Linked DNA regions of Homo sapiens: region 2 is linked to region 1. Evidence: fine-mapped expression QTL. A gene starts in region 1. The other region holds a variant in brackets. All regions are shown on one strand. Distances are between the middles of the regions.

Region 1 (15,904 bases):
TCCACCACCTTATGGGGCGCGATGATCTCAATCTCCGTGGTGGAGCTGGAGCGGTGCTTCTCCAAGTTGAACTCCACGAAGTTGAGCGTGAACTGTGGGATCTGGCTGATGGTCCTGTACTTGCCCCTGCCTGTGCCTGGCCCTGGTCCGCCTGGCCTGCCATGAGAGCCCTCTGAAACCAGGGCCAGGAGTCAGAGCAGCCACGGCCAGGGGACCCTCATGCGTCCCTCCCACCACCACCCTCACTCTGCCTCACCGGAGCCCAGGAAGCTCTGGGACAACAGGCGCTGGGACAAGCTGCGGCTGCTGCACTTGGCCAGGAGCTGGGCCAGGTCCTCGAAGTTGAGAATGAACATGATGACAGCCCCGTCCTCGTTCTTCACGGGCACCACATCTACCAGGCAGCGGAAGCTGGAGGCTGCGAACACCATTGGGAGGATGGGGGGTGGGCCCTGAAGGGGTCCCCTCCTGCAGTGGCCTGGCTAGGGAAGGGGCTGAGTGAAGGTCAAGTGAAGGGCAGCCACGGGTGAAGAGGCTTGGACAGTGACCAGAGATACTGGGCAGAGGGTGGGTGAGGCTGCTCAGCTGGTGCTCCACCCACAGGGCAGAGGTGGGGAGAGCGGTTAAGCTGCTTATTAGGAGATAAGGTAGCATCAGATCAGGCCCAAGTCCACGCTCGGCCATCAGCTCAGAGCTTAACCTCGAGGTCTGCTTCTGCTGTAATTAAAGCTGAGCAGATGGGGGTGGATTAAGTGGGGAGGTGAGGCTGGGCATTCTACCCCATGGAGCTGGGTTGGCCCTGGGCGCTCTTCCCATATTCCCATCCTGCAAAGATGCCCTGCTCCTGTGATGCAGGGAGGAATTTGTTGTTGAAAGTACACTAAGTGCTGGGCATGGGGCCAGTTGGAACATTTGGCCTCAGGAGGTCCTTGGGGGGCAGGCATGGACCCCCATTCTGCAGAAGAGAGCCTGAGGTTCTCAGAAACTGACTTTCAAGGGCTGGGAGGGAGCATGGAGAGAGGATCCCTGGGTTTGCAGGACACAATAGCTTGGAAAAGGGAAGGGACTTGTTTGGGAGGAGAGTGCTGGGGCCAGAACCAGGCTGCTGCTCTGGGCCTAGGAGGAGTGTGGGGTCCCAAGGCAGGGCTGGGCCCAGGGAGCAGGCAGAGTAGTGGCCTGGGCACCACAGAGGGAGGAGGATGGCCCTGTGGGGGCAGGGCAGGCCCCTCTGGCCACCTTCCCCATTATCTTGGGCAGCCCACACCCAGCGGCTGGCTGCTCTGTGCCTCTCAGGTCGTAGACTCTGCCCCTCCAGGGTCTGGCTGCAGCCCCCTTTGGTGGATGGAACAATACCAGCTAAAATGCCCCATGCCTGGCCGGGCGTGGTGGCTCATGCCTGTAATCCCAGCACTTTGGGAGGCTGAGGCAGGCGAATCACTTGAGGCCAGGAATTCAAGACCAGCCTGGCCAACATGGTGAAACCCCGTCTGTACTAAAAATACAAAAATTAGCCAGGCGTGGTGGTGCGCACCTGTAGTCCCAGCTACTCAGGAGGCTGAGGCAGGAGAATCGCTTGAACCCAGGAGGCCAAGGTTGCAGTGAACCAAGATCATGCCACTGCACTCCAGCCTGGGTGACAGAGCGAGACTCTGTCTCAAACAAACAAACAAACAAACAAAATACCCCATACCCAAGAGCCCCAGGCCAGGCACCCCACGAGCACCCTCTCCATGGGAGTCCTATGTCCCTCAACTCAAACTGTTGGCAGATGTCAGGCCCAAAGGGCAGGATCCTCAGGGGGCAGGGGCCTCAGGTGACCACGCAGATGAGAAGGCAGAGCTGCACTCCCTGAGGGCAGGTTAGGCTCTGTTTCACCTGTCCCAGGTGTTGTTTGTTGACTGAATGTATGGAAGCCCACGTGTGGGGGACGCAGGCCGGCCGCTGGTGGGAGTATCACTGCTGTGGAGCTCACTGGAATGACTCTCCACCAGACTCCTTGTTTCGTCCTCAGCCCCTCCTCACAGCCATCAGAGCTGGGGTGCAGCTGAGCCACCCATATCCTCCCTCTCGCTTTCCTCCCTGGGGAGTAGGAATCTCTCGTATTGGATTTCTGGACTCCCAGGCACCAGGCAGCCATCTACCATCTGCTGCCTGGGCCCAGGGGAGACACCCACACTGGGGAGAGGCGCCTGCCTGCTTCACCCACTCCTGGGCACATAGTGCTATAGGCCCAGACTCCCAGGCCCAAGCCCATAACTCCAGTCAGCCTGGGGCATGGTGACACGTGGACGCTGGGACCTAGACAGGGAGCCTCCTTGGCCAGTGGCCTCGGACACTGCTCCTAAGGCCAGATTATATTGTCAATCTCTCTGGCACTGCAGAGATCTGTCCTGGCAGGGGGCAGGGAGAGGGCAGAGCTGGGCAGAGGGGCAGAAGGCCTCCAGGGCTCTCTAAGCTGCTGGGGGCTGTCAATACACAGTCTTGGCGTGGCTGCACCCAGCAATTGATGTTACTGGAAAATTGATGCAATTGGAAAACTGCGGCTGGGAATGGACCAAAGACCAGCCCGTTATAGCAGTGAGGTCTGGGGCTGGGGTGGGGTGCCAGTGCGTGGTACCCCATGCCCTGCCCCCATGCCTGTGGCCTGTTGGGTAGGCAGACAGGAGGCTAGGAGGATTTGGAAGAGTCCAGAGCATTCTCTCTCCCCCTGCCCCAGGTTGTCCTTGCTTACCCGTGGCTCAGAGCCCCCACACAACAAAAGCCCACATCTAGGTGACCAAAAGTGGGTAACTGTACCATCTCAGGTTATGCCCAGGAGGGATGGTGTTCCTGTGCCCTCACCAGGGCCCTGGAGGAGGAGCCACAGTCTCTGCCTGCTTCTTCCTTGCAGGAGCTCCTCCCAGCACCCACCTTTCTGACCAAGGGCAGCAGGTTTGTCTGCCCCCTGGGAATTCCCATTCCTTCTTATATGCTAGGTTCTTACTTTTCTTAGCAAAGGCACCCCACTTCTCTCCCCTGGGAGACCCCAATTCTCTCTCCTCTTCTCTCCCTCTTGAATGTGCTCCTTCGTTCAGTTTCCCAGCACTCACAACCTCCTTGTTGTCTTCACCTCTGTCTCCCGATGCACACCCCATCCAGCACTGTGGTGAGTCCCCAGGGAGAGGCTGGTGCTACAAAAAGCCAAAAAGCTGCCACTGAGAGGGTGGCCGCTGCATGCTGCCTCCTAGCTTGGTCCTCCTGGCATTCACAGATGTGCATATGGTAAACATGGGAGGAGGGTGGGGGCAGACAGCAGCCCCTTGTCCCATCCTCCTCATCAAGAGCTGAGGACTGGAGAAGTCCCAGGACTCCTCTGATCTGGCTTGGGGATTAGGGGACTCTCTGGTTCGGGATCCTCAGAGAAGAGGACCCAGGAAAGGCAGGCTGGGGTGGGCTCCCGGGCAGGTGCCAGTGCGGGGCAGGCGTGGGTGACAGTGGGGGGATCTGAGTGCTCTCCTTTCTTCCTGCCAAACTCTCACCAGTTCTAGTCCTGCCACATCCCCATTCCTCCTTATCTGTTAGGTTCTCACCACTCCTAGCAAAGGCAAATAGAGGAAGAGCCAGTTTCCCAGGGGTCTCTGAGATGTCTCCCGGGGTATTTTTGCCAAGTGCCCTGGCCTCTTTGAGCCCAAATGTCTGTAGCTGCACAACGTGGAGCTATGTGAACACAAACCCTCCACTTTGACTTCGAGAATTTTCAGTGGATTACCCCTTTAGAGGAAAAGAGGATTATACATAAATCAGCTAGAGATCTGCTCAGGACCCCTTCCCACCTCCCTGGAGTTGGGGGTTGGGGGGAAGGGAGGTACTGACCCGAGGAGGAAAGAAATCACCATTAGGATGCCCCTCAGCAGGACTGTAAGTGTACATGAATATGGTCAAAAATGGATCATGTGCCAGCCTGGGCAACATAGTGAGACCCCCATCCCTACAAAAAATTAAAAAATTAGTCGGGTGTGAGGGTGCGCGCCTGTAGTCTCAGCTACTCAGGAGGCTGGGATGGGAGGCTGCAGTGAGCTATGTTCTTGCCAGCCTGCGTGACAGAGCAAGACCCTGTCTCAAAAAAAAAAAAAAAAAAAGGATTATATGAGGTCAGAGTGGACCTTAAGGTGAACATCAGTTATCTGAGCACAATATCCTTCCCTTAGTGTAATGCAGGCCAGGAAGCTCCCCTTTCTGGGTTTCAGGACAATTTCAGGAAGGTCCAGGTAAATCAAAGCCTTGGGCAATAAGATAGGGAAGGGCCGAGGGTGGGATGGGAGTAGATTGGGACTTATGGGGCACCAGGTATGTGGGCAATTTCCCATTTTCACCGAGGGTCAGCCCCCAAGACAAGGTTCCTAGGTTCCCTTCTGAGACCTGAGGACTCCCACAGGATTCTGATCTGAGTCCTGATCTCAGGGGGCCAAGGCCAGGCTTTGACTTCTGCCCTCTGCCCAGACACCTTCAGGGTGCTGAGGGGACCTCAAGAGCCATCACCTGACATCCCTAGGAATCTGGGATCAGGTATAGCTCTAGTGTCAAGGAGAGGAAAAGAAAGGACCTGCTGTAACCCCCATTTCCTGCTGTCCCATCCTGTTCCCCAGGACCCTTCTCACTCCCCTGACTGCCACCTCTCCTCTGCAATGATGTGAGGAGGTGAGGTCACAGCTTTTAAAAATATTCTGAGTTCATTAACCCTGTGAGTACTGCCACACTAAGCCAGATTCTTCCCAGTCCCTTCCTGGCTGCCGCTGCCTGTTGCACTTCCCACTGCCACTCACTCAAGTGGCAGCAGCAGGAACAACCAGGACCTACCCGAGAAGCTGTAACTCTGAGAAGCCTGCAAACACACACACACAGGCGTGAACTTGCAAGCACACACTCACACACAGAGGCACACACATGCAAGCACACACATGCTCATGTTTCACACACTCCAGGCCCCTGAAACCTGGTCTCTCAGCACTCCTCGGTCCCGATCCAGAGACATCCATTCTTTATCTCCACTCAGGTGGCCTCATGCCTGCCTTCCCTGGGGACTTCTCTCCCCTGAGCACCTCCTTCCCCAGAAATCCTGCCTGTAAACACAAAGGCAGCTGGGGTCCTTTCTCTCCTCTTGGGATTACTCAAAAGAAATCTCCGAGGGAGGAATCCAGAGACTTGGGTTCCAGTCCCAGGTTGGACTCTAGCAGTGGGATCTTGGGCAAATCCCTTCCACATCTATGAAATGAAGGGATTTACCTAAGCCAGTGGTTCCTAAAGTAAGCAGGACATCAGAACCACCAGGGAGATATTTCCAAATACACCCGCTTGGCCTCATCTCACACCTTCTGAGTCAGCCTCTCTGTAGAGAAAGCATGTTTTGGAAAACATGCTCTGGGTAATTCTGATGCAGAACCAGGTTGGGGGCCATTGATTCAAGAGATTTCCCAGGACATTCAGGCTCTTTTCCTCGTTCCCACCCATGCTGCCAGGTCCAGTGAGGACCCTGTGGTCCTGGGGGGTGGGGGAGGATTTCCAAGGGCTGCTGAGATCTGTCTTCAGCTCCTGACTTACGCTTCTGTTCTGCTTGCAGTATGCTCCAGCTGGCAGTAACAACCCAAACTCCATCTGAATGAGCTTCTTGGTCAGGGAAAACTCCAGACCCTGTCTCCCCAAAGAGCTGAGACTGGATAAGGCAGGCCCACCCCACTTTGCCAGCCAAAAGCCCCCATGCCTTGCCTGGCCACAGAGGTCTTCAGGAGGTGACTCCTCCTCTAATCCTTGGAGCAGACGGAGAGGAGGGAAGGTTAATTTCCATCCCAGCTGCCTGACCGCTGGGGCTGACAGTAAGATAGTGGAGAGCCAGGAGACCAGGGACACAGCAGAGGGATGGCAGAGCAGGAGGCCCTGCCCCAGGCCAGAACCAGTGGGTGGCCCAGCCTGATCCCTAGCTCCTGCAAAGGACCTCAGAAGGCATCATATCCAATGCCTGTGGAGGAACCAAGGCCCCTAGAAGAAACAGGGTTTGTTCAGGCCCTTTGGACCCTGGGTCAGTGCCTTCCCCAAGGCCACCCTGGCTGGACAAGACAGAGGGCCAAGCCTGCCCTGCAAAGCCTCTGGCCTGAGTATGCCTCACCATCCTTGCGGTAGTAGAGGATGTCCACCTTGCACTCCTCAGCCCCCAGCAGGGCCTGCGCTAGGCGGGACACGGCGCTGCTTGGTGTGTTGGGGCCTGTGAGGAAGTCGCAGGTGCAGGGTTGCTGCATCACCTCCACTCGGGAGTAGCCGAAGAGTTCGCAGAAGCCGTCGTTGCAGTAAATGATGGCGCAGTTCTCCATCTGAGCATTGGCAATCAGGAACTTCCGACCTGGGGTGGGAGGTGGGAGGCAAAAAGTCCATGGGAGCCAGGATCCAGCGGCTGGGAGGGAAAGATCATAAGGACTCTTGGTGGCAGTAAGGGGAATTTAGGCAGAGGAGCAGGGCAGTGACCGGAATGAGGGAGGGAGTCAGGCCTGGGGATTGTGGGAAGACTAGGGCAGTGAGGGTCTTGAGGTGGAAGGAAGGCCCAAGGCCTCCTGGAAACAGGAAAAGTGTGGGGAAGGGAGGCAGGGATGTGACCAGATGGGGGTCAGGCCTGGGAAAGCTCCTGGGAAGACCAGAACCAGGATATGAAAAGGAAGGAAAAGAAGGACTCAGAGAAGCCTCTGGAGGACGCGGATGAGGGGGCAGGCAGTGGCTGGAAGGGGAGGTTCGAACTTGGGGCACCAAGGAAACAGCTGGCAGTAGGGAGGGAAGGCCTGCACGCTGCTCCTTGTGTTCCAGAAAAGAGGACAGCATTTAAGGCAAGCGGGTCCCCCTGGAGGAGAAGGTGTTGGGGACATCAAAAGAAGGATTTTTCATTCAGCACCCGGCACTCACCACCTTGCCCGGTTAGAAGTTAGTAAAGGGGTCCAGCCCCCCCTTTCACGGAACCAGGACTCCAGATCGTCCCCCCGCCCCAACATACACACACTCACTTTGGCCCTCGAACTTGCGGATGATGGTGTCCAGGTAAGTGTTTTGGGGAGCGACGTGGCCCCTGCGGACCGGCATCTTTCGGCCGCGGCCCCTGCCCGGAGCCACAGGCGCCACTGGCTCCCGGCGTCTCCGTCTGTCCTCGGGCTCAGCAGCGTCCGGCTCCGGTGGGCGCCGCCCCCGGGGAGGGCCGCCGGGCTCCGCGCCCCGCCCGCCAGCCTGCGTCTGCCCTCCCCTCCCCACCCCTGCCCCACCTCTCCTTTCCTTTCCTGCGCTCCCCTGCCCTCCCCTCGCCTCCCTGGCCCGCGCCCTCCTGGCCTCCTCTCCTCTGCGCCGGCCCGGGAGCTGTCCACGCCTTGGTGCTGAAAGAAGCCGCGCGCCGGCGGCGGGGAGGGGGCCGCTGGGCGGGGCAGTTTCTCTGGGACCCGACGGGGCTGGGGCGGGGCCTTGCATCCTACGGGGCGGGGCGGGGCGGGGCGGGGCGGGGCTGGGGTCCTGGCCCTGGAATAGGGCAGGTGTTCTCTGAGGAGCTGCTTCTGTTCCTGTCCTAAGGGCCAATGGCCTCAGCACCTCTCCGATTCCCTCCCAGTACCAAAGGGCAGTCTCCCCTCCCAGTGCAGGGAGTTTCCCAGGCAGGAGGGGGGCTACAGATGGGGTTGTTAGGGGCCTCAGGTGGTCTTTGGCTGAAAGCTTTCTTCCGGGTCTGACCACTGGGCCCGACCCTGGCAATGATACCATTAGGCCTCTGGCCTGCTCTTATAGCAAGTGATCTCCAGCTCAGCTGAGACCTAGGTCCCATGCAGAGCTCCTGCCGCCAAGTCCAGCCAGGGCCTGGTCCTGAGAGGAGGGGGTAGGAGTACACATGAAGACGTGCAAGAAATATGCAATAAGGGCCAGGCGCGGTGGCTCACGCCTGTAATCCCAGCACTTTGGGAGGCAGAGGTGGGCAGATTACCTGAGGTCAGGAGTTTGAGACCAGCCTGGCCAACATGGCGAAGCCCTGTCTCTACTGAAAAAACAAAAATTAGCTGAGTGGTGGCGCAAACCTATAATCCCAGCTACTTGGGAGGCTGAAGTGGGAGAATCGCTTGTACCCGGGAGGCGGAGGTTGCAGTGAGCCGAGATTGCGCCACTGTACTCCAGCCTGGTAGACAGAGCGAGACGCGAGACTCCATCTGAAAATAAAAAGAAAGAAAGAAAGAAGTATGCAATAAGATGCCTTCTTCAGAGGCCTGAGAGCTCTTAGCATACAGGTACATCTTGGAAGGAGAACAGATTTAAAACCACCTATTAGCAAGTGACCACTGATAAAAGTGTCTGAGTACTGAGTACTGACTGAAAATGAACACACTAGAAAAAGCAAATGGGGGTGGGAATAGGTTTATTGAAAGAGGCTTCCTGGAGAGGAAGGGGAGAAGGGGACTACTGTTCACTGAGCATCTGGGTGGGCTTGTAGTGCTGCAGAGGGTTTGGTGAGCAATTTTGAGCCTGATCTTGGAGGGCAAGCATTCAAATGGGGCATGCACCTTAGGCAAAGGCCAAAGGTGATGTCAGTGCAGAGGGGCTGGGGTGGGGGGAACAAGGGGGTGTGGGAGAGGTGAGTTTGGAGGAAGGAGGTAATTAATAAAGACCCTCAGATGCCATTTTGAACATCTAGATTTAATTGATGAACAACCAAGTTCTTAAGCAATTAGACATGAAAGAAATATTCTGGTGACATAAACTTTACAATGGTGGGTGGGGGAGGAAGGATAGACAAGGAGGCTCAGCAAGGTTTTTACTGGAGTCCAGGTGAGAGGCTTAGAGTCCTGGGCTGGATGTGTGTTTGTCATGCAGAGCCACAGTGCCTAGTGGGGGCCTCTTTGGCCACTGTGGCTGGGGGATGAGAAGAGGGCAGAGATGTCCTGGCTGCCCCTCTGTTGGACAGGCTGGCTGTGGAGGAAAAGAAGGGGCTATTTCTCATGAGCTCAGTACATGGGGTGCTGAGCTCTGAGGAGGGACTTGGGCAGTGGGACATTCATTCATTCATTCATTCACTTACTCATTCCATCATTTTCCAAGTCCCTTTTGTGCACCATGGCCTGTGCTGACTAGAGTTGTTACAGAGGGGCACACTCCTGATGTGCATCCAGCTCTTATAGAGCTGATAGCTAGTAATAGGGACAAATAAGGACATTATGGCACAGAAAAGTAAGAGCAGGGACAGAGTCATCAAACAAGGGTGCTGTGGAGCCTGGGGCTGGAGCAAGTGCTTGGGCTCAGCCAGATCTCAGAAAGACCTTTTGAAACCTGGACAGGGGCAGGGTCCATGGAGATCTCAGCCTAGTATCTCTGTCCCCTGAACACCTGAGTTTGGGGCTCAGATTCTTAATTCAGAGAGACCTGGTCTCCTCTTTTGGCCACCCTCCCACCAGCTCAGTTGCAGCCGGGGTACCCCTTCTCTGTAGTTACTGGCTATAATGCCCTTTCCCCTCAAGTTTTCCCTATTCTCTGACAGACACTGACTCCCAGCCTCCCCAGGAGCCCATGCAACCTCCATCCAGACGCTCTGAATCCCCAATATTGAATGTAGGATCCTCATGGCAGGCAGACCCAGGCTGAGGATAATGAACTAGGAAAGGCAGAGGCAGAGGCCTTCCCGTTCTTTCCCCAGGCTTGTTTCTAGAGCACTAATTTCCCAAGTATTCTCCTACAGTTCCCTCCTTCCTGTCCTCCCCATCCCCCACTGAGCCTGAAAAGGTGCTGTTTGTCCTATGCTCGCTCCCCAGGGCAACGGGCCAGGCAGCAGGTGTGTGTGTGTTGAACAAGGCCATCTCCAGAGCAGAGTGGTTGGAGATGAGCTTTGTTTAAATATTAAAGAAGTCAATCATTAATCAAGCCTGGCTCAATGCCCAGCAACCCACTGTCTCCATTTGGAAGGGCTTGGGCTGGGGCAGAGAGAGCCATGGGGCAGTTTGTGAGGCTACTTACATCTCAACTGGTCAACAAAGAGCTTTTGGGGGCTGGATTATGTAGTCCAACACAGGGCTGGCCCAAGGATTAGCAGAAAGATGTGCTGGTTGGTATAAAAGCACAGTGCTCATAAACTGGGCACTGGTGATTCGTAAAGGAATGTCCTGTCCTACCTGAGTACATTTTATGTACTGTGGACTGAAGCAGAGTCCTTTTTCTAACCAGAGCAGAAGTGGACTGAAGCAGAGTCCTTTTTCTAACCAGAGCAGAAATTCCTTGGGCACTGCAGTCCCATAGCCGGGTTACTGAAAAAAACAAGGCTGTGTGCAGAACCAATTCTGGGCATGACTTGGGGTGGGGGCTGGTTTGCAGGGACACAGCCACTGGGTCAATAAAACCTTAGGTCCTGAGCCACCAGGGGAAGGAGTTTGGCCTGAAACCCAGGACACACATAGAATCACATAGAGCCAGTTGTTTGTGCACACAGCCTCACATACATGAGTTTGCAAACACACAATTACAATATCACATGTACCCAGATCTGCCACAGCTGAACCCAATTATAATTGGGCACTATGCATGCAGGCTGTCCCCTCCTCTGCCCCCCAACTCTCTGGCTCAGCCTCCCTCCTCCTGCCCCCCAGCCTCACCAGTTCACTGGTGTCTAGTCCCAACTTCACCATTCAGCTCTTACCCTTGGAGGCTTCCTGCTTTACTGTGTGAAAATCCAGATGGCCAGGCTGATTGAGCACAGCATCAGGACAAGGCAGAGGCCCAGCAGCATCCACTGTCCTTTAGCAGCCTGGCAGGGTTCCATGGCTATGCCCAGGAAGCAGGCATTGGGCAGTGGGCTGAATATCTCAGTGTCTTGAGTCAGTGACTGTTTTTCCAGGGACTGCAGCCTGCAGGCCAGCCCCAGCACCACCAGAGACATGACAAAGCCCAGGGCCAACAGCACCCAGTACCCAAATTTAGCCTGGTTGGGGTCCAGCTTCAGACTCAGGAATGTCACTTTGTCTGTGTCTTTTTCTGTGGAAGACATAGGAGTCTCATAGGGTGGGTAGAACTGGAGAGGGACCCCTGGGGTCTCCTGTGGCTGTCAGAGGAGATCTGATTGGACTACATGCCCCTGCATGCAAGGGACCAGAGGCAAGATGCTGATCCTTTGCTCAGATGTCAGCCTGGCAACCTAGCTGGACAGTGTGCAAGGAAGCAACTGAGCCAGGGGCTGTGGTGGGAGCGGTGGTCTTGGCTGAAGCTGCATCAGGCCTGGTACAGACAGGGTCCCACAGCAGCAGTGCTGTTGATTCAAGCCAGGTCATGAATGAGCCAGGGGTTAAGGCTGGGTAGGGGTAGGTACTAGGACAGAGCAGGGTAAGGTGGAGCCTGGGGCTGGCCCAGAGCTGGAACCAGGGTCAGATTATCAAACCTTCAAAGGAACAGCTGAAGTCTGGCCAGCCTAAGATGTCCCCTTGCTGCATGTTCTGTCACCAGCCAGGTCAGTAGGGGTTTGAAGTAGGTCATGAAGACATTTGTAGACACCTCAGACTCCCCAGTCAGCATCTTTAGGACCTCTGGCCAGGGCTTGCTTGAGCCCAGCTTTAGAGCATCCCTAGGGGAGTGGGTGCAGCTGTGAGGCTGTGTGAGGGCATCAGCTGGTGCAGCTGAGACCCCCAGTGCACCCAATCCCAGCCCCAGCGATTGGCCAGCCAGAACTTTCCCGCAGAGCTTGGCATAGTGGATACAATCACAAGTTTGAAAGAAGATTAATCTGGGTTTGAATCTCAGCTCTGCCATTTAGTAGCTGTGGGGCCTTGGGCAAGTAACCTTTCTGAGCCTCAGTTTCCATATCCATAAAACGGAGATGATAATGGTATCTACCTCGAAGAGCCATTGTAATGATTAAATAAACACGGTGCTGGGAGCATAGCATGCAGGCAATACACGTTAACTACTGATGATGATGATGATTCCTAGTACTACTGGTAATACTGTGATGATTATTATTCTCCTGGACTCAAATAGGCATAAAGTCCTGAGACACTGTTTCCCGTGAGGTGCTCGGTGTTGGTAGATAGTGGCAGCTCTTCACCCCTTTCTGGTTTCAGGGAGGGTTTGGGAGGATTAGAAACATCATGAGCATGGGAGGTGCTCCGCACACCACCTGTAGTGCTGCACAAATGTCAGCTGTGTTTCACGGCACACCCGGTCCTTAGGGGCAGGTGGTTGAACTTTATGCTAGGTCCCTTGGGCTCACAATGGGAGTATAAGGTGTGCTGAAGCCAGGGCTCCAGGCTTCTCCACTCCAGAGTCCCCAGGAGAGGCAGTGGTGGGCAGATGTTTATCCTTCACAACCTGTTGTTCCTTGATCCAACTCTCAGGACAGACTTGGGACCCAGAGGCCCAGAGGTCACGATCTAGAGTCTAGACTAACAGGGCCCAGGCTTAAACCTGACCTAGCAGTGCTACTTATGGACTGCATAACCTTAAGCAGACAACTTAGCCTCTCTCGGCCTCAGTTTCCTCATCAGTAAAATGGGAGCCATGAATACCTGCCCTCATTGTGATGAGGACTAAGTCCCACAATGATGAAGGAGGGTTTGTAGCTTGCAAAGGCTTATGCGCATCACTTAATAAACAACTGGAAAAGAAAGAGTTAGGGAAACCAAAGGTCAGTGGGGCCTTGGCAGATACCACTGGAGAAGAAAAACCACAACTAACTCTAGGTAAGAGGTTCTGATGCTGGCTCCTGAGTAAGAGGAAGAACCTAGTAGGGGAAAAGCTTCAACCATTGAGAATCTACCCATTTAGAAACAGTCCTTCAGGCTGGGTGGGACAAGATGTTTGACCAAAGGGCAGCCAACAGCCCATGTGGACAGGACATGAGACCAGAGAGCAGCAGAGATGACAACTAGATGCTGCCTGGAGCTTTCAACTCCAAAGTGACAACAACACACCCCATGGACAAGGTCAGGCGCACCATGGCTGGTGGGGTGAAGCTGGGTGACTTTGAGAACTTTGACCAGGCCCAATTCAACCCTCCATTCCCAACAGAAGCAGCCCAGAGCCTGACTCAGGGCCATCACATTTAGGAGGATGAATCAAAAGTAGCAAAACCAAGTTTTAAGATCAATTAGGCAAAAGAGCAGCCAAGAATCTTTCTCTTTTCCCCCTGCAAGCACTCACATCCCCTCTCCCCTCCACAAACCATATTCGGCTCTGCTGCTATTTCATCATCTGCAAAGGTCATGATATCCTCCTTACTCAGAAACCTTTCCTCTGCCCACGGCTCACAAAATGGTATGTGAAGTCCTAAGCCTGGAATCAGGATTTTCCCTGAGCAGGAGTCTGGCCAGGGACACACAGGGACTGGTGAGCAATGACAAGAGATGACTCACTGGCCACATGCTTTGGTGCCAAGTCAGACCCTGAGAGCCCTGTGCACCTTGAGTGGGGTGAGCGTGGGAAGTGGTGAAAATGACTGAGGTCAAACATCCCACCAATCAGGTGGGATGAAAGAGGTGAGTTGATGTAAAAGAAAACAGATATCTTGGCCAGGCGTGGTGGCTCACACCTGTAATCCCAGCACTTTTGGAGGCTGAGGTGGGTGGATCCCTTGAGGCCAGACGTTCGAGACCAGCCTGGCCAGCATGGTAGAACCCCGTCTCTACTAAAAATGCAAAAATTAACCAGGCGTGGTGGTGTGTGCCTGTAATCCCAGCTACTCTGGAGGCTGAGGCACGAGAATTGCTTGATCCCAGGAGGTGGAGGTTGTAGTGAGTCGAGATCATACCACCGCAGTCCAGCCTGGGTGACAGAGTGAGACTGTCTCAAAAACAGAAAAGAAAAGAAGAGAGGAAAAGAAAAGAAAAGAAAACAGATATCTGCTATTTTTTTCTCTTTCTTCTTCTCCTTTTTTTTTTTTTTTTTTAAACGGGGGTCTCGCTCTGTTGCCGAGGGTGAAGCACAGTGGTGTGATCTCAGTTCACTGCAGCCTCGACCTCCCAGGCTTAAGTGATCCTCCTACCTCAGCCTCCTGAGTAGTTGGGACTACAAGTGCGTGCCACCATGCCTGGCCAAATTTTGTTCATTTTTTGTAGATACAGGATCTAACCATGTTGCCCACTCTGGTCTCAAACTCCTAGGTTTAAGGGATCCTCCCATCTTGGCTTTTCCAAAGTTTTGAGGTTATAGGTATGAGCCACCATGCCTGCTTTCTGCTATTTCTTGCACACTTGCATTTGAGGACAAAACTCCCTCCTTGGTCCCCCAGCATGACCTCCTAATCCTCTTTCTATGTTCACGAAAGCCCCTTTCCATTGCCTGGTATTATGAAATTTATTTATTTACTTATTTATTTATTTATTTATTTGAGATGGAGTTTCCCTCTTGTCGCCCAGGCTGGAGTGCAGTGGCATGATCTCGGCTCACTGCAACCTCCGCCTCCCAGGTTCAAGCAATTCTCCTGCCTCAGCCTTCCAAGTAGCTGCGATTACAGGCAACCATCACCACTCTCAGCTAATTTTTTGTATTTTTAGTAGAGACGGGGTTTTTCCATGTTGGGCAGGCTGGTCTCGAACTCCTAACCTCAGGTGATCCGCCAGCCTCAGCCTCCCAAAGTGCTGGGATTACAGGTGTGAGCCACCATGCCCGGCCATGAAATTTATTTATCCTGTGGTTCATCTACCCCTGTTGGATGCAGAGCAGCTGGTCTGCATGAGGACAAGTAAATGTTTACTGAATGAATAAATGACAGGCAGCCAGAGATAGGAATGCAAAGAGCAGAGAGGTGCCCTTATGTTCAACATGTTCAGAAAAGCTCAAAGCTGGGCAATCAGCTAGAATAAAGCCCTGAGACGTGAAAGGATGGAAGAGCAAATCTACTAGGGAGACAACAGTCATGCAAGGTGCAGCCCTCCCTAGGAGCAAAGCCCAGGGGATCAGTCCTGAAACCCCATCTGGCCTGGTGGCTACAGATAAATTGCATGGTGGAATCAAAAATATGCTCATTAAATTTGCAAAGGATACTAAATTTGTGGCAGTGTTAATCCTCTAGGAGACAGGAATAAAGCTCAAGATGACCTTGACCAATTAGGGAAATGGACCTATTGAAATCCGTTGAAATTCAACAGGAAAATGATCAAGTCGGTGGGTGAGCTCCACATCTCCAAGGTTGGAGTGCTGATCTTGGAACCAGTTAGACCTGGATCTAAGCTCACCAGGGGCTGTATTCTTTGAATGATGGAGGCGAACAGGGTGAAAGATAATGTGTTCTGGAGTCAGTTCTGGTTTCAAAGCATGACTTTGCTTCTTGCTAGATGAATGATGCACAACGACACCACCTCTCTTGCCTTCAGTTTCATAATTTGTAAAAGGCAGATAATAATATCCACTTTGCAAAGTTAAGAGCTATTATTATAATATGAAACACTGTAAGAGTACTCATCAGAGAGCACCTCCTGTAGTAGTAAATGCTTCACATTTTCAGTTCAGTCCCCTACTCCCTCAGGGTTTGCTTTGGGACTAAAAACCACTGCCACATAGGTAAGCATGGAAAGAATAAGCTAAACACCAAGTGCAGAGAAAAAGACTCAAGGGTCAAAGTGGACCACAGGCTGACCAGAAGCATGCCAAGAGGCTACTGTGAAAGTAACCTGGATCAGCCTGGGAACTGGATTTGGGCACCTCCAAGAAGAGGTGGGAGAAACAGACTGCACTGAAGGGTGTGCCAAGTGCTGCTGAGAGGGTAGGTCAGCACCTTGTAAGGAAAGGATAAGGGGGATTCGGACGGAAGGCTGAAGCCTGAGGTAGAACCCCAGTGCTGGCTTCCTATCTGGGACAGTTTGGCTTACTGGCATATGTGTGTGCATGTGTGTGTGTGTGTGTGTTAGTGGGAGGGGCTAAACATTGTCTTTTCTTTCTTTCTTTTTTTTTT
Region 2 (14,828 bases), 21 kb after region 1:
ACCTAGGACAGGAGAGAGGACTCACCAGGAGCTCACCATCTCACCCTTTAGCCATGGCCTAGCTGACAGGATACCCAGACGCCTTCTAGGGAAGCCACTCAACCTCGCTGACCGTCTGGGTCTTCTTTGGCAAAACGGGGAGAATACCTGCCCATTTCAGAAAGGCACTGAGCAAAGTCCATGATCCGAGCTCCCCACCATGCCTGCAAGGCCCTGAGTCCCCTCTTATCCCACCTCATCCTTAGCCCTGTGGCCACCTGGGCTTCTTTCAGGTCTTCCAGAGCACCGGCTCCTCCTGCCGCGGAGCCTCTGCCTAGGCTGCTCTTCTTTCACATCTTGCTTCCCGTCTTTTGCCCATCTTTCAGGTCTTGGATAAATGTCAGAGGCCTTCCCTGTCCACTTGTCTGCAGCAGCCTCTTCTCATTCTCTTTCTCAGCAGCCTCTTCCTATTCCGCATCACCCCAGATGGTAGTGAGAGACAGGTGTTTACTGAATATGGTCTGTCTCCCTGCAGGACCGTAGGTGCATGAGGGCAGGTGCCTGTCTTTTCACCTATGTGTCGTCAGAACCTCCCCAGCACCTAGCACCTAGGTGCTCTATGAATATTTGGAGAGCCCAGCTGCAGGGCTCATAGGTCCTGTCTCCAGGGCCCTACGGCCACCTTCACTCTGGGAAAGCTCAGCTTTGCCCCTTCCTTGCCATCACTCCAAGCTCTGTGGCATCCCATCTGCTCACCGTTGAGCTGTGCAGCCTTGTTGCTGAGCTCCACATAGTGCTCGAAGGTGGTGCAGATCTGGCGGCCCACGGCATCCTGCCAGCCCTGCCAGGCCCACAGCAGCTCCTCTTTGTCCCTGGAGGTGGCCATGACTTCGAGTTCTATGCCCAGAAAAGGAGCCATGGGGGACCCACTCCCACTTGCCTCTTCCCTCACCCTCCTGGCAATAAGGGAGGGTGGTTGGGGGCTGGGAGGGGCCCCTGGAAGGGACTGAGTGCTGGAGATTCTGTGGTTGGGTGGGACAGGGCTTGGGTGTTCACCAGACTCCAGGGACAGGCAGGGCCCCTCATTCAGGCACACCTGGGCCATACTGTATGTCATCTCCAGGTAGGCCAGAAGCTCGTTATACTGGGGGGACAGGTGTTACCCAGGGTAGGCTGGTGCCCCAGGTCCCCCCCCAGTGCTCGCCCCACCAGCCAGGAGAGATCGGTACCCCCACCTCTACTCCTCTCCTTCTCCAGAGGAAGTTCTGATCCTGCCCTTCCTCCACTCCCTGCCTCCCTCCTGCCCCAGGCACTCTGTCTCCCCTACCAGACCCCTAGGACCAGGGAGCATGTGCCTAAAGGCCTGGGGGTTCCATCCATCACCTCCCGCAGCTCGTCCTTGGACAGAGCCGCCTTGTCTATGTTCTGCAGCTTACTCAGCATGCCATTCACATCCGGGTCCTTGAACTGGGTGACTTTAAACAGGTGGGCCTGGGTGCCAAAGTAAATCATGAACTGGGACCTCTCCATGTCCTTGTGCAGCTGCAAAGAGAGCCACCAAGGTTGGGGGACAGGGGAAGGGTCCCACTTGACCTCCAGGGCCATGGCACCCTAACTGACTCCCTAATCCCATTGGCTTAGGGAGCAAGATTTGCTGAGAGGGAGAGGGCAGAAACCTGGATCTCTAAAAGCAAGGAGGTGAGATTTACAAAGGACAAGAAGCAAGAGATTCTTGCCTGGAGGAAGTTTAGGGCTTCCAGGAGGCCCAGAGCTTGCAGCCCTCTTTGACATGTACACTGGGGCTTCCCTTGTTCCTCTTGCTTGGGATGGGGGCAGGAGATGTGGTGCCCCATGGTCCCAAATCCCTAAAAAGAGCAAAGAGAGGAGAGGCTGGGGTGGAGGTGGTATCACATCATCTCCTCCTGATTTTTCCTGGTGATATTGGTGACATAGTTCCAAGTGGCCTCCATGAACTTGTTCAACACAACTTCACCTGTTTGGTCATAAAACTGCAGGAAGATCTTGGTCTCGGTCTCATTGTAGAAGTCATCTGCAGGGAAGGATATGGGCATCATGTGCTGAGAAGGTCCTGTCCGCACCCAGTCCCTTTGTCTGGTCCCATGCTTCTTGGGGTCCCAGCCACACCTAAACTGTGTTCACCCTTGATCCTGAGCCAAGGCAAGAGCTGCCCATAACAGAGGAGCACAAGTAGGGAAGGTCCAGGGCAAGTCCACCTTGCTCCCATGACCAACAGAGCAGCAGAGCTGGGTGAGGCCAGCTCCATATTGTGACGTCAGAGGCCAGAGGCTCAGCTACAGAATGTTAGAACTGGAAATCCCCATCCACCTCCTGGTCCAACTGTCCCCATTTTACAGGTGGGGAGACTGAGGTCCAGAAAGTCAAGCCAAATGATCTGGTTCATGTAGTTAGCTAATGGCGAGCCAAAAAGAGGAACCAGGGGTCTTGACTTTTAGGCCAGAACTTGTTCTGCTCTCCTCGGCCACTTTTCCCTGGGGCTTGAGCCACCCTTGGGTTATGGCCAGGGATTGATGAGGCCCTCCCTCCATAGGCTGGGACCACTTCTGAGCAGGTGGATGGGATGATGGATGGATGGATGGATGGATGGATGGATGGATGGATGTGATATATCTGGGTCTCTGGAAGCCAGGTTATCTCTCTAGGTTCTTCTAACTTGACCTCTTATGTTCACGTGTTTGGGCTTTTTCTCTCTTATGGGCTGTGCAATCAACCCCAGGGCTGTGCAGGGCCCTCCCCATCATACCTGTTTCTCCAGGGAGACCCTGATGTTATGAGTTTGCAATTAGGAGAGGGCACACAAGGTAGGGACTGGGTGGGGTGTGGAGAGGTGAGGCGGGCACCCTCCATCCAGGGTGCATGCCCATGAGTACCTGAGCCTGATCTGAAAACCAGCTGGCAAGACACCAGCTCTCTGTAGGCCTGTGGTCACCCCCAGTACTCTTGCACTGAGGTCTGTGGAGGCCAGCTCCATCTGTCTCACCTTGGATTTCTCCTCAGACTCACTTCCCTCCACACTCAGAATCCCTGTACCCTGGGTTGCCTTCCATCACTCTCAGCCCACAATGGCTCACATCTTCAAAAAGGCCCTACCTCTACACATGGGCTGATACCACGACTAGAGAAACTGACCAAATAACCCCCCAATATGATCCATTATGGGTAAAATATATTTATAACATGAGGAAAGAAAGAAAAAAATAGTGACACTTCTGGTTAAGCTGATCGACTGAGCTCACAGGAAAGTCTCCCTTCCTGCTTCAAGCATGTAGACAGTCCATTCTCACATTGCTATAGAGAACTACCTGAGACTGGGTAATTTATAAAGAAAAGAGGTTTAGTTGGCTCTACAGTTCCACAGGCTGTACAGGAAGCACGGCTGGGGAAGCCTCAGGAAACTTACAATCATGGTGGAAGGCGAAAGGGAAGCAGGCACATCTTCACATGGTGGCAGGAGAGAGAGAGAAGGGGGAGGCGCTACACACTTTTAAACAACCAGATCCTGAGAACTCAGTCACTATCACGAGAACGGCAAAGGGGAAGTCTGCCTCCATGATTCAACACGCCCACCTCTCCTCTAACACAGGGGAGGTCAGGGTGCATCCATCCAGAGAGCTGCAGCATTGGTGTGGGGGGATAGCTGATCCCGATGGAAATGGCGTCTCTGCCAAGCTGGGAGCCCCTGCAAGCGTCAGGTGCATGCATGGGATTGTGCAGGCCATTCCAACCCAACTGAAGATGGCTGATAGGTACAGTTTACCAAGTATAAGAGAAAATCCAGTTTTAGGAGGGACAATAATAATTACCAACCCTCACTGTGGGTTGGTTCCAGGTGCCAGGGACCATCTGGGGGCTTTCAACATATGAATCCTCACAAGAAACCCATGAGGTAAGTACTGTGATCAACGCTCCCATTTTACAGATGAGGAAAGAGAGGTACAGAACGGTTGAGGAATTTGCTCATAGTCACACAGCCAGCGGATGGTGGAAGTGGGACTCAAATTCATATGGTTGGTTCCAGAGCTTGTGCTAAACTGCAGACACAATGAATGAAGCAGACTGCAATGGAGGAAGGACAAGTAGCAGAGCAATCCAAAAGGGACTTAAAATGCAGGTCTTTATGCCATGTATAAAAATTAACTCAAAAATGGATCACAGCTTATTTTCTTTTTTCAATTTAAAAGAGTACATTTAAGGCTGGGCACAATGGCTCATGTCTGTAATCCCAGCACTTTGGGAGGCTGAGGCAGGTGGATCACTTGAGGTCAGGAGTTCAAGACCAGCCTGACCAACATGGTGAAATCCTGTCTCTACTAAAAATACAAAAATTAGCCAGGCATGGTGGCACATGCCTCTAATCCCAGCTACTCGGGAGGCTGAGGCTGGAGAATCGCTTCAACCTGGGAGGCAGAGGTTGCAGTGAGCCAAGATCACACCACTACACTCCAGCCTGGGTGACAGAATGAAACTCTGTCTCAAAAAATAAATAAATAAAATAAAAATAATAAAATAGTACATTTAACACCTTATCTTGGACAATGTGACAGTCATGAGATCTTTGTGTAGGAGAAGAAAGAGGGAACAAAAGAGCAAAGTCTACAAAATTCTTAGAACACAGAGGGAAGTTTCATGACATTGGATTTGGCAATGATTGCTTGGATATGACATCAAAAGCACAGGCAACAAAAGAAAAAATAAGCAAATTGAACCTCATCAAAATTTTAAACTTTTGCATATCAAAAAACACTGTAACAGAGCAAAAAGGCAATCCATGGAATGGGAGAAAATATCTGTTACTCTCAGATCTGCTAAGGAATTAATACCCAGAACGCATAAAGAACTCCTCAAACTCAAACATTCAGAGATGGGCAAAGGGCCAGGCGTGGTGGCTCACACCTATAATCCCAGCACTTTGGGAGGCTGAGGTGGGTGGATCACCTGAGGTCAGGAGTTCAAGACCAGCCTGACCAATACGGTGAAACCCCGTCTCTACTAAAAAAATACAAAAATTAGTCGGGCATGGTGGTGGGCGCCTGCAGTCCCAGCTACTCAGGAGGCTGAGACAGGAGAATTGCTTGAACCCAGGAGGCAGAAGTTGCAGTGAGCCGAGATTGCCTCGCCGCACTCCAGCCTGGGTGACAGAGTGAGACTCCACCTCAAAACAAACAAACAAACACAAACAAACAACGACAACAAAAACAAAGATGGGCAAAGGACTCGGGTAGACATCTCTCTAAAGAAAATACATGAGCTGCTCATCAGCACAGGAAAATATGCTCAATATCACTAATTATTAGGGAAAGGCAAATCAAAGCCACCACTTCACACCCATTAGGATGGCTGTTATCAAAAAAACAGAAAACAAGAGTCGGTCAACGTGTGGAGAAATTGGAAACCTTGTGCATTGCTGGGGGAAAATGGCAGAGCCGCTGCGGAAAACAGTCTGGTGGGTCCTCAAAAAAAATGAAGCATAGAATTACCATATGATCGGGCAATCCTCCTGGGTATATACACAAAAGAACTGAAAGCTGGGACTCAAACAGATATTTGCACACAGTGTTCTGTCAACCTGAAATAATAAAAAAGATCAGAATCCAGTTTAACAGGTTTATTCGAGCGTGAAGCTGAGGACGGCCATTCTCACAGGCTCCAAAGAAATGGGGTCAGTGCTCTGAAGCTGAAAAGTTTAAGGTCTTACTTTATAGTCAGAAAACTAAGAAATTAGGTAGAATCACAACATTTCCCATATAAGTTTGGTTTATGAGGTACAGCAATTTGATTAGTAATAGCTTATTTTCTTTTTTTCAGTTTAAAAGAGTACATTTAACACATCTTGGACAATGTGACAGTCGTGAGGTCTTTGCGTAGGAGAAGGAAGAGGGAAGTTAATCATCTATAATGAAGTTCAACAGAAAAGAGGAAAGGGAACTTCTATGGCACCCTTCAGTCTTTTATAACATTTTACAAAATGATGTAGCTAAGGGGAAAAGGAGTAATCTATAATCAAGGAAACAAAGTTCATAGCTGCCCGTAAGTGACTCAGGTCCCAAAATTACTTTCCTTCAAGGCTCAGAATAATTTAAAGTTTCAACAGCTTTGATTTTGAATTACTTTTTTTTACAGTTCATAGTAACATTATTCACCATAACCAAAAGGTGGAAACCCATATGTTCATGGATGAATGAATGGATAAACAAAATGTGGTATATACATGTAATGTAATATTACTCAGCCTTAAGAGGGAAGGAAATTCTGACACATCCTATAACATGGATAAACACTGAAAACATTATGCTGAGACAAGCCAGAGACAAAACAAATACTGTATGATTTTACTGTTTAATGGGTACAGAGGCTGGGTACTGTGGCTCACACCTGTAATCCCAGCACTTTGGGAGGCCGAGGCAGGTGGATCACTTTAGCCCAGAAGTTCGAGACCAGCCTGGACAACATAAGGAGATCCCATCTCTACCAAAAAAAAATTTTTTTTTTTCTTTTTTGAGACAGAGTCTTGCTCTGTCGCCTAGGCTGGAGTACAATGGGATGATCCTGGCTCACTGCAACCTCTGCCTCCCGGGTGCAAGTGCTTCTCCTGCCTCAGCCTCCCAAATAGCTGGGATTACAGGCGACCCCCACCACACCTGGCTAATTTTTATATTTTTAGCAGAGATGAGGTTTTGCCATTGTTGGCCAGGCTGGTCTCAAACTCCTGACCTCAAGTGATCCGATCGCCTTGGCCTCCCAAGTACTGGGATTACAGGCGTGAGCCACCGTGCTTTGGCCTCTACTAAAAACTTAAAAAAAATTATCTGAGTGTGGTGGTTCATGCCTGTGCTCCCAGCTACTGTGGAGCTTGAGGTGGGAGGATTGCTTGAGCCCAGAAGGTTGAAGCTGCAGTGAGCCTGGACAACAGAGTAAGCACACTTTTTGGGGGCACCTTGTCACACACAGAAAAATGAAACTGTTCTGGAGATGGACAGTGGTGATGGCTGCACAACAATTAACAATGTGAATGTACTTAGTGCCACTGAATTGTACACTTAAAAATGGTTAAGATGGTGAGTTTACATTATGTATATTTTGCCACAATTAAAAAAACCAGGTCTTTAAAGTGATTCAGAGAACAGAATCTGTGAGGCAAAAACAGGCGTTTATGAAAACCCAGGAGGTTTGAAAGAAGCAGGGATGCTAAAATGAAAAATATAGGGATTAAATTGGAACGACAAAACTCTCGACAGCCAGATTAAACAGTAGGCTAAAAATCAGAAGCACCGGGCCTGGAGGACACAGGTGGGGAATCGCCAGGCACACAGGACAGGAAATGGGGTGAGCACTATGAGCAAGAGTTAGGAGACAGAGGGCAAGATAGAAATCCCCAGGCAGGGTCTTATGGGGATCCTCGAAGGTGAGGGGAGATGATGAGGGAGAGGAGACATGGGGAGAGAGGATGAGGCAGAAGCGACACAGGGAGGGAGGATGAGGGAGAGGATGAGGGAGAGGATGAAGAAGAGGCAACACGGGGAGGGAGCATGAGGGAGAGATGACATTGGGAGAGAGGATGAGGGAGAGGTGACATAGGGAGAGAGGATGAGGGAGAGGATGAGGGAGAGGTGACACAGGGAGAGAGGATGAGGGAGAGATGACATAGGGAGAGAGGATGAGGGAGAGGATGAGGGAGAGGTGACATAGGGAGAGAGGATGAGGGAGAGGTGACATAGGGAGAGAGGATGAGGGAGAGGATGAGGGAGAGGTGACACAGGGAGAGAGGATGAGGGAGAGATGACATAGGGAGAGAGGATGAGGGAGAGGATGAGGGAGAGGTGACATAGGGAGAGAGGATGAGGAAGAGGCGACATGGGGAGGGAGGATGAGAGAGAGGAGAGATGGGGAGAGAGGATGAGAGAGAGGATAAGGCAGAGGTGACATGGGGAGGGGAGATGAGGCGGAAGCGACACAGGGAGGGAGGATGAGGGAGACGATGAGGGAGAAGTGACATGGGGAGGGAGGATGAGGGAGAGGAGAGATGGGGAGAGAGGAAGAGGGAGAGGATGAGGGAGAGGATGAGGAAGAGGCGACACGGGCAGGGAGGATGAGAGAGAGGATGAGGGAGAGGCAACATGGGGAGGGAGGATGAGGGAGAGGTAACACGGAGAGGCTGAGGGAGATGTGACATGGGGAGGGATGATGAGGGAGAGGCGACACAGGGAGATGGCTGAGTACTCCCGGAACTGAGGCAAGCTGTGGGCCCCCAGTGGACGAGCTCTGTGTGCTCCCAGTAAGAAGACAGTTGACTGGCTGTGCAAGGACGTGTGGTGGGGAAGTTCCTGGAAGGCAGCTGGGAGATGGGAGTTTTCAGTCCAGCTCCGGCACCCAGTTGCCCCGAGTCCTCTTCCTGTCTCAAGTGAGAGGGCTGATCTGGACTTGGCTGATCTGGGGTTGTTATGAAACTAGCTTTCTCAGGAGACGATGCATTCATTATAAAGAGAAGACACTCTACTAGGACTTTGTACATCATCTCATTTCATCTTCATGGCAACGCTGAGAGGGTTGATAAGAACCGTAAGAAAGAAAATGCAGGCTGGGCGCGGTGGCTCACGCCTGTAATCCCAGCACTCTGGGAGGCCGAGGCAGGCAAATCACGAGGTCAGGAGATTGAGACCATCCTGGCTAACACGGTGAAACCCTGTCTCTACTAAAAATACAAAAAATTAACCGGGCGTGGTGGCTGGCGCCTGTAGTCCCAGCTACTCGGGAGGCTGAGGCAGGAGAATGGCGTGAACCCAGGAGGCCAAGCTTGCGGTGAGCCGAGATCACGCCACTGCACTCCAGCCTGGGTGACAGAGCGAGACTCCATCTCAAAAAAAAAAAAAAAAAAAGAAAAGAAAAGAAAATGCAGACTGCAAAAACAAACTGCCCAAGGTCACACAGGTGATAAGTGCAGAGGTGGGGTTAGCCACTTTTTCACTTATGTTAAAAGCCAGGGTGGGTGGGAAGGGGGTTAGGCAGACAGAGGAAGGTAGAGGGTGGGGAGGGCTGTGGGGATCAGAGAAACTGTCTGGCAGCCACCACCTGTGGCTAGCGTAGGTGAGAGCTGGTCTCCCAAGAGCGGCATTGGCAGGCATGGCACGGGGATGGGCTCAGCCTTCAGGGCCACCAGTAGAAAACACTGGGGTGGCCCCTCTTCCTGCTGTTACCGCCTCCTCTTCCTCTGCTACCTTCCAGGTATCCCCTGCCTCTCCCCACTCACCCAAGGAGGCAGAGGCAGGCATCTAAAGAATGATACTATTGGGCCGGGCGCGGTGGCTCATGCCTGTAATCCTAGCACTTTGAGAGGCTGAGGCGGGCGGATTGCCTGAGCTCAGGAGTTCAAGACCAGCCTGGGCAACATGGTGAAACCCCATCTCTACTAAAATACAAAAGAAATTAGCTGGGCATGGCGGCGTGCGCCTGAAGTAGTAGCCCAACTACTCGGGAGGCTGAGGCAGGAGAATCGCTTGAACTTGGGAGGTGGAGGTTGCAGTGAGCCGAGATCAGGCCACTGCACTCCAGCACTCCAGCCTGGGCGACAGAGCGAGACTCTGTTTGAAAACAAACAGAAAAAAGATACTATTTCAAAAGCCCAGAGGGTAAGGCTGGCCAGGCCAATGCAGTGTGGAGTTTCTCTTCCCCCAGCTGCAGTGCAGTCCTTTGCGTGTTGAAAGCTGGTGACCTCACGCGGCCCAGAAGCTCTGACAGGCAGCATGAACCGCTGTGGTTCATAAAAATAGGAAACGGGGGCCAGGCATGGTGGCTCATGCCTGTAATTCCAGCACTTTGGGAGGCCGAGGTGGGTGGATCACCTGAGGTCAGGAATTCGAGACCAGCCTGGCCAACATGATTAAACCCCATCTCTACTAAAAATACAAAAATTTAGCCAGGCATGGTGGTGGGCGCCTGTAATCCCAGCTACTCGGAAGGCTGAGGCAGGAGAATCGCTTGAAAGCCAGGAGGTGGAGGTTACAGTGAGCCGAGATCACACCACTGCACTCTAGCCTGGGCAACAAGAGCGAGACTCCATCTTAAAAAAAAAAAAAAGGCAAAGGGGGTCATATGATGATGACCTTTGTCTGGTAAACAAAGAGCTTTCAAAACAGGCTGGGAAAAGGGGGGATAATTCAAGAAGTCTTCATTGGTAGATGACT[C/T]GGAACCATTTAGAGGACATGTTTATAAATTCCATTGTCCTATGTAATCATAAACTTCCACCCTCTTTCAATCCTAAAATACCTCAGCCCCACATCCTGCCTTACAGAATGGGCCTGTAACAGCCAAGCCTGTGTACAACACACACACAGACACGGACACACAGAGACACGCACGGCACCTGGATTGGGGGGCAAAAGCTGTGGACTAAGGGGGACAGATATTGGGAGATGGACCTAGCTAGGGTGAAGACATCAGCAAAGCCCAGAAGAGACTCAGGGCTGAGGGTTTGACAGAGGGGCCCGGGTGGCTGGGGAGCCCCTGGCCCCAGCAAATGGACCAACTTCTATTGGCCAAGTTCGAAGTCTGGCATTTAAATATCAGAAAAACAGATCTAGTTGTATGAAGTGATAAAAGGATGTATGACTGTAAATATGGTGTGATCCCATTTAAAATACACATGTGCTGAGAAGAAGTCCGGCAAGTTGTACACCAAAACGTCAACAGGGCTTATCTCTTGACGTTGATATAAAGGGCTTTTATTTTCTTTACAGTTTTCTGTATTTTCCAAATTTCTACATAAACATACACATAAAAGTCATAAAAATGTCCCTTAAAATGACACTCCCTCCAATGCAGGGAGTGAGGAGGTGTGTGCTGGGACGCCAGCAGGGTGGCTGCTGGCAGCTAATCCCTGTGCAGGTGCAGCCACTGCTACACTCCAGCGTCTGAGGCCCCTCTGCACTGGCAGTGTTAGAATGGCTGTCTGAGAGCCAAGGCTGTTCACCCGAGCAGAGTCATGGAGCTGGTACAGGCAGGAGCCAAGGTAAGCACTAGGCTGGTGTGTGCCCTCCAGGGGGCACCCTCCTTGAAGCAGGCCCTCCAAGGTACTCGCCCCCTGAGGCAGCCGATAACAGCCGGAAGCCTTCCCCTGGGGGGACCTGGCCATTTGTGGAGCAGGGAAAGGCTCCACTGCCAGTGGAAATGTGAGGCCAGCAGCCCAGGATGTCTGCTTCCCAGAGTCCGCGTGGGTCAGTGCTTGGGCCAGACAGGGGCTGCCTGCGGTGGCAGGACAGTGGCGGGCTGCCTGGGCTGGAGGGAAGACAGGCGCCAGCGCCAGGAGGTGCTGGGGCAGAGCTCTGGGGATCCTCCCCGGCTCCTGAAGGAGGATGGAGGAACAAACCTAGTAACGGGACCCACTTGACTGCCAGGAGGCAGGAAAGCAGCCTGTCCCTGTCCCTGGCTTCCCTGTGAGGGACACAGACTCAGATGGGGAGGGCAGGACCTTTAATTGTATTCACAGAGAGACTTGGAGAGGTGGGGCTCAGTGTCAGGCAGCCGTGTGCTGGGAGAAGGGGCTGGGGCGGCTGGTGGTCTGGAGGACTGGGAGGGGAGGGGGACAGGGACAGGGCAGGAGGAGCAGGGTGGGCTGGGGTGTGGGGTGTGTCCTCAGCTGCCCACCAGTGTTCCCATCCCAGTCTCTGGTGGGAGGCCCTTGGGCAGGGCCGACCCAGCCGGGTCACCTCAGGAGTGTCTCAGCTCCACCTCGGAGCCGAACTGGGGCCCGTGGGAGTGCCGGTGGAGGCTGCGGTGGCGGATGCTGAAGAGCCGCTGGCTGAGGCCCAGGGTGGCTACCAGCAGGGCGATGCCCAGGAAGAGCAGCAGCCACTGGCCCACGCGGGCCTGCTGCGCATCCAGGTCCAGGCCCAGGAAGCTGACGCGGCCGCTGTCTGGGAGGGGCCCTTCTGAGCGAGCTGAGCGGGAAGCAAGGAGACAGCATGGGCAGGGCAGGGCAGGGCAGGGCAAGGGTGCGGGGCAGGGCCAGGCTCCGAGGTCAGCCGCATGGCTGCCCAGCCTGGGGAGGGGGTTAAGACCCAAGGCTGGAGGTGGGGTGGGTGGCGGTACCGGAGTTCGGCGTCCAGTTGTACTGCGGCCAGCCCAGCTTCTCCCCATGCAGCTCGTTCTCCGTGCGGAGCCAGTCCAGCAGCGGCTTGAAGTAGCTCAACATGGCCGAGGCGCTCATGTTGGGCTGGCCCGTGATCAGCTGCATGGCTTCCGGCCACGGCCTACTGAAGCCCAGCTTCATGGCGGTCCTGGGGAGGCATGAGACAGGGAGGCAGAGTCAGAAGGACATGGCCCCTCTTGCCCCCACCTGACATCCACTCTCCATACCCACTCCCAGCTGAAACTTGTCCCAGGGCCCCAGGGCTCCAGGTGCCTAAGGAGATGGCAATCAGGCCTGGCCCACGCTGCAGGTGGGAGTTCCCGGCTCAAAATGGCAAGTGTTCCCACAAAAGCTCCAGTGGACAGACCCCTCAAGGCCCAGGGGCGCAGGCCAGAGCATGGAAACAAAGGAGGGCTGGAGGACACTCACGCCAGGCGCTGCCCGGCCTCCTTGGACTGGTAGATGTCACACTTGTGCAGGGGGCCCGTGTGGCCAGCTGCCTGGCACAGTGCCTCGTGGAACTGGAACTGGATGATGAAGCTGACAAAGTACCTGGAGCAGAGCGAGGCCGTGGCCCGGGGCGGAGTTGGTTGAGGGCCTTGTGCCACTGGGCCCCAGGCCCTTCTGCACATCACATGTGATGTGTGCTAAGTCACATGCGCACAGCAGAGCCAAGGCCCCCCAACTCTGCCCACAGCTATCAGGGTGAGCTCCCCCACCCCAGCTCTTAGCATTGTCTGAGCCTCTTCCTAGCCGTGCCTGTGTAGATGCCTCCCACCCACAGAGCTGCCTCCACAACTCAGGAGGGCCTGCTCCATGGGGTCAGGGCAGAGCCTTCAGAGATCTGGCAGGTGGCTTTGGAGGCAGTGAGGTCTCCATCCCTGGGGTATATGCAAGTAGAGGCAAGGTGTGGCCAAATGGGCCGTGTGGATCTACTAGGGTGGTCTGGGCAGGGAAGCCAGTCCTACATGATCTTATCCAAAGCATCACGAATTCCCTGGTAGAAATCTGCCAGTCAAGGCTGGAGGATTCTCCCCAGCTTAAAGTCTGAAGAGGTTTTAAATGTCCTGAGCCAGTGGCACAGGCCTCTCACTTTGAATGCTGGGTGCAAGCATGTACCACCTAGTTCCCTGGTCTTTCCTAAAAGTGCTTTGTGAAGGCTGCTGGCCAGAATCCGGAATGTTTTTCTAGAGCAGCCAAGTCTCCTTTGCCCACCCCTGTTTGGAGAATTGTCTGCATTAAGCTGGGAAGCTAGCCATCACACCAGCTGGCTCCCGGGTGAGAGCCAGCGCCGGCTGGGAACCCCAGGGACCACTCCAGCAGGCAGGCGGGAGCCCTGTCCTAAGTGTCATCTCTGGAGCACCGTCTAGGTCAGGCCTATCTGAGGTGCTCCAGGGATGCCCTCTTCCTGGACTCTGGGGACAGACTTCATCCATCCCACAATCAGTTATTAGCACTTGATGATGTGCTGGCATCATCCCAGGTGCCAGGAGGCAAGGTGGGCATGGGCCCTGCCCTTGCTGGGCTTCCAGGAACCACGGGAGGCCAGGGCCAGAGGCAGCCACAGCCCTCTGGGGGTGGCCTGGGCTACCTGTAGCCCGGGGGCACCTGGAACTCCAGCCTGAGGTCTCTCTAGCCCCCAGCCTCCCAGGGAGCCTCCCGGATCACAAACAGCCTTGCTAGCCCTCAGCAAGTGCTCTCCCGGGGCACACAGAAGGAGAGGGGCTGCATTGGGCACACTCATCTGTGGCCATGTGACCTGCAGACCTAGTGTGCAGCTACATTCCACTAGAGAGTGATGAATAGTGGGGTCCTGGCCACCCCTCCCTGAGGAGGCTGTGTATGAGACAGAATGCTAAGAAGTTAGCCATCGTGCATCCTGTGAAATGGGGTTCACAGGTCAGGAAATGGAAGCTCACAGAAATTGAGGAATTTTCTCAAGGAAACAAAGTAATGGAGACGGAGTTTGAACCCAGTTCTGTCTGACCCCAGCCTGTGACTGTAACTTGCCCCAGCAACCCTGCCTCCCACCTTAACCGATCTCCAATCCTACATTTTAGTGTCTAGAAGGGCTTCCAGGTACAATTCAAATTGTATCGCAGACAATGTTCAATAATAGTAAAAGAATCACAGTCTTGTTTTAAAAGCAAAACAAAACAGTGCAGAGCTCATGATCCAGCCATGAGTCGTGGTTAATGTTAACTACTTAACCAAGGTCTGGTAACCATTAGCCAATTATTAGGTTGAGTTTCTGTGTTCAACTGTTTGGATGGTACAGACTCTCATCAAAAGAATGTTCAAGAAAAAACCCATCAGCCTTGGCAGTGTGAGTGGGCCCAGGCACCTGCACCGTGCGGCCGGCTCCCCCGGGTCTGCCCTGACTGACAGAGCTTGTGGACCGGGCAGTGGCCGCAGTTGAAACACAAAGCTGTGGGTACTGCCCCTCACAATGTGCCCTCCTGCCTTTCCCGTTACCTGATGTAAGGCACGCTAGAAGGAATGTGGAACTTGGCCCCTGGGTCAAAGTCACCTTGAGTCCTGGGCACTGGGGGGCAGAGGCCCTGGTACTTCAGCCTGTCGAGTGGGAATATATGTTGGAAGATGAGTTTGGGGAGAACCAGGCTGGGGGTGGCATTTTTGACTTGAGGGAGGGTCCCTGCACTTGGGGCTATACTGGGCACCCCATTCT

Which allele goes with the higher level. Alleles are on the strand shown, and positions count from the first base shown. SD is a standard deviation of normalised expression in the study named.
For the expression in lung of the gene that starts at base 7,151 in region 1, T is the high allele of the variant in region 2 and C is the other (moderate effect, 0.75 SD a copy in GTEx).

What was found. PIP is the estimated chance that this variant, and not a neighbour inherited with it, causes the effect.
Region 2: its variant is fine-mapped to the expression of KCNH6 in lung (GTEx, PIP above 0.99).

The regions. Positions count from the first base shown.
Region 1 is chr17:63,514,605-63,530,508 of GRCh38, reverse strand. KCNH6 (potassium voltage-gated channel subfamily H member 6) reads right to left here and starts at 7,151. Exons shown (of 13, transcript NM_001278919.2): 1 at 7,020-7,151; 2 at 6,140-6,370; 3 at 257-418; 4 at 1-172. The coding sequence starts at 7,095. It also overlaps the pseudogene ACE3P. RefSeq lists enhancers at 13,528-13,637, 12,634-13,833, 15,180-15,229.
Region 2 is chr17:63,494,257-63,509,084 of GRCh38, reverse strand. It overlaps ACE (angiotensin I converting enzyme), which reads right to left. Exons shown (of 25, transcript NM_000789.4): 22 at 14,615-14,713; 23 at 12,569-12,691; 24 at 12,100-12,287; 25 at 10,712-11,948. The coding sequence ends at 11,719. It also overlaps the pseudogene ACE3P. Among named protein-coding and RNA genes, the nearest start is that of KCNH6, 22 kb to the left of the region's middle. The variant C/T (reference allele first, on the strand shown) is at 10,197.